Homo sapiens: one gene and its partner. The protein of the gene in region 1 purifies or fractionates together with the protein of each later gene. This does not show direct contact. Each region holds a gene or a part of one and is shown in the gene's direction. Other genes may lie near its edges.

The links.
Region 2: the proteins of PEX11G (region 1) and PEX11A purify together in Homo sapiens (affinity purification with western blotting; one study listed by BioGRID and IntAct). This does not show direct contact.

Annotation. Positions count from the first base shown.
Region 1 is NC_000019.10:7,479,036-7,482,535, reverse strand, and holds part of PEX11G (peroxisomal membrane protein 11C), read left to right. Parts: intron 1-324; coding exon 325-503; intron 504-2,546; exon of another isoform or gene 2,547-2,640; coding exon of another isoform or gene 2,641-2,718; exon of another isoform or gene 2,719-2,798; coding exon of another isoform or gene 2,799-2,967; exon of another isoform or gene 2,968-3,500. UniProt on the Homo sapiens protein: Promotes membrane protrusion and elongation on the peroxisomal surface.
Region 2 is NC_000015.10:89,684,395-89,687,754, reverse strand, and holds part of PEX11A (peroxisomal membrane protein 11A), read left to right. Parts: intron 1-1,208; coding exon 1,209-1,324; intron 1,325-3,360. UniProt on the Homo sapiens protein: May be involved in peroxisomal proliferation and may regulate peroxisomes division. May mediate binding of coatomer proteins to the peroxisomal membrane. Promotes membrane protrusion and elongation on the peroxisomal surface.

The DNA of each region.
Region 1 (3,500 bases):
GGCCTGCCCCAGGCTGAGTGAGGCAGAATCCTCACGGCTGGCATTGGGCATGGGGTTTTTGAAGCTCTGCAGAGGACTGCACTGCACAGCTGCGTTGAGAGCCTCCCTCCAAGGGGCACTGAGCACCGTGCTGCCGAGACACAGAAATCAGGCCTGTGCGGGGACCCCAGCCCCAGAGCCTTTCTCCCGCGGGGCCTGCCAGGCCTGGACACGGCCCAGGGACTGGGGTCAGGAAATAGCTCTCTGCCACCTGGCATGGCTACGGTGCTAAAATGGGCAGTGGGTAAGTCTGACCCTAGGCCCCCTCTGCTCCTGGTCCTGCAGGAGGAGGACGCCTTTGTCCGCTGTGTCTCCGTCCTAGGGAACCTGGCTGACCAGCTCTACTACCCCTGTGAGCACGTGGCCTGGGCGGCTGATGCCCGGGTCCTCCACGTGGACTCTTCTCGGTGGTGGACGCTGAGTACAACCCTGTGGGCCCTCTCTCTGCTCCTGGGGGTTGCCAGGTAAGTGGCATGGGCCAGAAGGGAGCACCCAAGGTCCCTGGGCGGTGCCTCCTTAGCAAAGTGGCAGCGGCCCCAGCAACAGCACAGGCTTCAGACTGCGGTGGGTCTTTGCCTCTTAGAGTTTTCCTTGGAGGTTTTGTTGTTTCTTCCTTTTGTGGGTGTATTTGTTTAGAATAACTGTCGGAACAAATTAGCACAACTCTGTAGTGCTGGGCAACAGAAACTTCTTATCTTAGGATTCTGAAGGCTGGAAGTCAGAACACTCCCTGGGCTAGTGTCAGCAGGCGCTGATGCCTTCTGGAGGTCCCAGGGGGAGGTCCGTTTCCTTGGATTTTCCAGCTTCTGGAGGCCACCCACATTCCTTGGCTCATGGCCCCTTCCTTCATCTTCCAAGCATGACCTCTGCTTTCAGCGTCACACCTCCTTCCCTGACCCTCATCCTCCTTCCTCCCTCCTATAAGGACCCCTATGATGACATGGGGACCACCTGGATGATCCAGGGTAATACCCCATCTCAAGATCCTTAGCTTAGGTTGGGCGTGGTGGCTCATGCCTGTAATCCCAGCACTTTGGGAGGCCAAGGCGGGTGGATCACTTGAGCCCAGGAGTTCTAGACCAGCCTGGCCAACATGGTGAAACCCTGTCTCTACTAAAAATACAAAAAATTAGCTGGGCTTGGTGGTGCACACTTGTAATCCCAGCTACTTGGGAGGCTGAGGCAGGAGGATTGCTTGAATTTGGGGAGGTGGAGGTTGCAGTGAGCCGAGATCACACCCCTGCACTCCAGCCTGGCGACAGAGCAAGATTCCGTGTCAAAAAAAGAAAAAATCCTTAGCTTAATCCCATCGGCAAAATATCCTTTGCCTTGGAGGTGAACATGTTGACAGGTTCAGGACATGGACATTTTAGAAGGGGTCATGACTCTGCTGACCACACTTAGAAAGAAGAAGTAACTCCAGGGCCTGTGAGAAGCAGCCAGCGGAGTGGCCTTTACCCGGGTCCCTGAGTCTTGCTGGCGTTGCTGTCAGCCGACACCCCAGAGAAAACAGTCAGCAGTTTCCTGACTAGTTCTGTGCCTCCAAAAAACCATATAGTTTCTAGAACTTTCTAGTAATGGTTTCCTCCCAAACATTTTCCTCTTTGCAAATGCGCTGAGTCAGAATCCCCTGCCCCTGAAAACACCAGCAGGAGCTGGGCCCCCTGGTCTCCATGTTTCAGTGGCTGTGAAGGGCTCTTAGATCGCTGGGGTGAGGTGCGGCTGCCCCCAGCCTCAGGCAGGCTGTGTCCTTTTTCTGGGGGAAGCTTTGCTTGTCCCTGGTCGAGGCTCTGACTCTCAGTAGTTCTTGTTTTCCCCCCGGCACAGATGTCCTAATTACATGCTTACCGTAGACAATCTGGAAAATAGATAAACCTCAGAGTAGAAGATTCGAATTACCCACAATCCAACCCAGACTCCCACTGTTCAAGCTTGGGTGGTTCTTTTCCAGCCTTTGACCTAATACCCTGCCTGTGCATTTTGGCTGTCTCAAAAGGGTCATGTTTCATGGCCATGGCCCCTGGAGGCAGCGGTGTCTGTGCTGCTGGCCTTCCCTGTGTGCTGGGAGACCTGGGGGAGGGTGCCTGGGCCCAGCCTGGATGTTCCTGGGGCTCCGGTCAGAGGGGGGCCTTGGCTCACAGCCTCTCTTCCGCCACCTTCCTCTGGGTGCCTCGTGACCTCTGGTTTGTATTTTAGGGGCAGCCTTGGTTCCTTTCTTTTTTGCTTAAATAAACTTTTTTTTTTTTTTTGAGACAGGCTGAAAAGCAGTGGCTCAATCTTGACCCACTGCAACCTCCGCCCCTTGGGCTCAAACAATACTCCCACCTCAGCCTTCTGAGTGGCTGGGACCACAGGCTGTGCCACCATATCTGGCTAATTTTTGTAATTTTTTTTCTGTAGAGACACGGTTTTGCCATGTTGCCCAGACTGGTCTCCAACTCCTGGGCTCAGGTGATCCACTTGCCTTGGCCTCCCTAAGTGCTGGAATTATAGGCGTGAGCCACCACTCCCGGCCCAGACTTTATTTTTTTAGAGCAGTTTTAGGCTCATGGCAAAATTGAGCATAACGTTCAGAGAGCTCCCATATACCCCCACACACAGCCTCCCCGACTACTGGCAGCATCCACATGGTGCATTTGTTACAACTGATGCCCCTCCATGGATCCATCATCACCCCAAGTGAGTAGCTCACGTTAGGGTTCACGCTAGGTTTTGGGCATCCTATGGGTTTGGACACTGACACGTGTCCCCCCTTGCAGAATCAAATGGAATTGTTTCACGGCCATCGAAGTCCTGTGTGCCCCGCCTGCTGCGGCATTCTTGTTTCGGGCATGTGGTTTTTCATCATTTCTCTGGATTTGCAGTGAGCAGGGGGAGTGGGTGGAGAGCATTCCATGTGTGCTCATCATGACCAGACATCTGCCCTAAGGCCCAGGGCTGCCGGAGCATCAGCCAGGAGGTTGCTAAATGGAGATGCCTGGGTCCGGCGCCCAGGGCTTCTGATTCTTTTCTTGAGACACAGTCTTCCTCTGTCGCCCAGGCTGGAGTGCAGTGGTGCGATCTTGGCTTACTGCAACCTCCACCTCCCGGGGTCAAGTGATTCTCCTGCCTCAGCCTCCCGAGTACCTGGGATTACAGGCGCCCACCACCACCCCCAGCTAATTTTTGTATTTTTAGTAGAGACAGGGGTTCACCATGTTGGCCAGGCTAGTCTTGAACTCCTGACCTCAGGTGATCCACCGGCCTTGGCCTCCCAAAGTCCCGGGATTACAGGTGTGAGCCATCGCGCTTGGCCCAGAGCTTCTGATTCTGTGGGTCTGGGGAGCCCAGGAATCAGTGTTTTTCCCTAGCCCCCCAGGAGGCTCCCACCTGCTGTGCCACTGGCGCTATCCTGCATCCTGCACCCTGGGTACCCAGTGGCCAGAGGAGTTGTGACCAGGCCCTGCCCATTCTGTCACAGT
Region 2 (3,360 bases), on another chromosome or scaffold:
GAAAGCGATTGTTTATGATTCCAGTCTTCTCTTTTTATTTCATTCCTAGTAACAAGTTCACTATTTTAGAAAATGAAAATGTACCGCATTTTTATTGAGAATAATATTTATAGCATAAAGGGATTCAAATGCACTTACAAGACAGTAGGAACCAGGCACCTACTTTATTAGTAGATTGCCAAATGGATTTGGATGTGTGACTATGTGATGTAAAATTTCTCCTACATTTATATTAGTAAGTCATTGTTATTTGTAAGCATGACAATAATCACTTTATTAAATATATAGTATTATTAAGCAGGATTCTGCCTGTATTTTATGTAAAATACGAATAAGTTTTGAAAGACAACTATGAAAACATATTTATACTAATTTATGTACTGATGTGTATTTGGTCCTTTCGTTTATAAAAAATTAAACAATCTTTAAACTGTGGACTTTTCATTTGGTTCTGGTTTGAGTTTGTGTCCTGTCACATAGATGGTAGGTTAAGTACATGGTAGAAAAGTTCATTTTAGAAATCTGAAAATCAGGCCAGGCACAGTAGCTTATGCCTGCAATCCCAGCACTTTGGGAGGTTGAGTAGGGCAGATCACGAGGTCAGGAGATCGAGACCAGCCATGACCAAAATGGCACAACCCCGTGTCTATTAAAAATACAAAAATTAGCTGGGCGTGGTGGCACACACCTGTAATCCCAGCTACTCGGGAGGCTGAGACAGGAGAATCGCTTGAACCAGGGAGGCAGAGGTTGCAGTGGAGCCAAGATCACACCACAGCACTCCAGCCTGGCGAAAGAGCGAGACTCGATCAAAAACAAACAAAAAAAAAACAAAGAAAGAAATCTACACTGGGGAAGAGAAGGAATATGGATCTTTGTAGACTTAACATGAGGGAGATTTTGTACAGTTTCTCACTTTGACTATATCCATTTCTCTGTGCCAGCAAAAGGCCTTTTGGAGGCACATTGGCTGCATTATTGCAGAATTTGTTTTCATTACCTTTGTGTTAAATTTCCATGACATGTTCTACCCTTTGGCTCTCCTGTAGAATGACTGTTGCAGAATTTTGCTTTTGTAAGAGTTGCTACATGAGAAATGGTCTTGGAAATGTTGTCTGGAGGCATGTGTTTCTCTTTCCCTTACTTCCTGAATTAAGTTTTATTTGGTTTGTAAATCATTCTTCTCAATTTTTTTTTTTCCATTTCAGAGCCACTCAGTACACATGCATGTTGCTTAGATATTTGTTAGAGCCCAAAGCTGGCAAAGAGAAGGTGGTAATGAAGCTCAAGAAACTGGAGTCCAGTGTGAGCACTGGTCGTAAATGTAAGTACCCTGTTTCTTGAGGGACAGTGACTCCTGGTTTAGAATCCTCAGCCTCAGACCCTGTAATTCACGGAGTAATTTCTAGGTCATTAATTTCTAGTCAATCAAGTTTATTGGTGAAATTGACCAGTAAGGCTGTCCTCATGGCACAACAGGTTTGAATGTGTTGCTGCAGACCATTCATAAACACCCTCTTATGTTCACATCTGGTGCTACACCTTATCTTTCTGCTGAATCATAACCAGTGAGACAGACAACGTGTTAGTTCACCTTTAGTTCTTAGAATCATAGTATGTTTTAGCAGTCTCTGACATGAGCTTCTGCTCCTGTGAGCCCCTTTATTCTAAACAAGAGTGGAATAGTTATATCCTAGACCACCTGCCTTTTTCCTTTATTGAGGAGTGCTAGAGGATATATAGGTGGATACATTTTTGTAGACCATGTTTGAGGTAGGTTTCATGCCAAAGGTAAAAAGTGAAATCAATATTTTGTGTTTATTAAATTTACTTTAATAATATGTCATACTGGGAAATCCAGTACTTTTCATAGCAATTGCCTTTCTGAGTCTTTGTTGTTTGATGAAAACCAGATGTTGCTATAGTAGGTTAGCAGAGGCATTAGAATGGAATGTAGAGCATCACATATTGATCAGTTGGTTTTGAGCACCTATGTTATATAGGTACATTCCTGAGCCTTATGGGAGAAGTAAGGTGCTTTAAATAATGATATATAAGATTTAGTGCCAAACTTGTTGGCTGAGGTAGAGGAAAAGAAAGGTGTTTTAGAGGAGGTGGAACTTGAGGTGAGGCTAGAGAGAAGGAAGAAGAGAGTTTCGAAGGGCAGTTTTCTCTAATAAAGGCTCAGAACTGAGTAAACCATTGTATGGGAGGATCATTGTCAAACTACAAAACTAGTTTGACAGATTTAAATTGTCAAGCAGAGGGATGGGAAGGGTAGGGCGAGCTTTTCTGGATGGCACTGAAGGCCAAGATTAGAAATTCTATTTAGATTATTTAGAATGTTGGAGCTGAAAGGTCCTTTAGAGGTCACTAGTCTGTAAGTCCAGAAGGGGCTTATCCAGGGTCATTCAGCCAGTTAGTGCAAGGGCCAGAACTGGAACCCAGAATCTATATACTAAAATAGTCATTACATATACTATTTTACTATTTTATGTTATTTTTGATAACATAATACAAAACATTCTTTTTTTTTTTTTTTTTTTTTTTTGAGATGGAGTCTCACTCTGTTGCCCAGGCTGGAGTGCAGTGGCATGATCTTGGCTCACTGCAACCTCCGCTTCCCAGGTTCAAGCAATTCTCCCACTTCAGTCTCCCTAGTAGCTGGGACTACAGGCATGCGCCAATATGCCTGGCTAATGTTTGTTTTTATTTTTTATTTTTTTTAGTAGAGACGGGGTTTCACCACGTTGGCCAGGCTGGTCTCAAACTCCTAACCTCAGGTGATCCGTGCACCTTGGCCTCCCAAAGTGCTGGGATTACAGGCGTAAGCCACCGCGCCCAGCCCCTTCTGAGATTATAAGTTTTCTGAGAGTAGCTACTTCTGAGCACCTCCTGAGTCTAAGGTATGATCCTTCAAGGAAAAGTACTTCTTTTGTATCCTCCGTGACATTTAGTACTATAACTCTTTCTCAGAAGGTGTTCAGTAAGTACCTATTGATTGATGCATCCCTGATTAATTGAATTACGTGCTCACATAAGGACGTGCCATTGCAATGGTTGATTTAATTCAACTAGGAGCTCTGTGACAATATTATTAATTGTTCTATCCATTAAATTCTACCATTTCTACTTTATCTTCTTGACAATAGGTAGCCAAAAGGGGTTTGGACCAGAGAAATGGCAAAATGATAATAGTGTTTTTTAAAAAGACAGTCTTTTGTCTGGAAAATAAATAAAATGCAAGGCATCAGACTCTCCAAGAGAGTATTGCATCTGGAGTTCATGTTATCATAGTACCTTCCTTCTAAAGAAGTGTAGCTGGTAAATAATCAAATGTAACAGTCCACACTCATGATT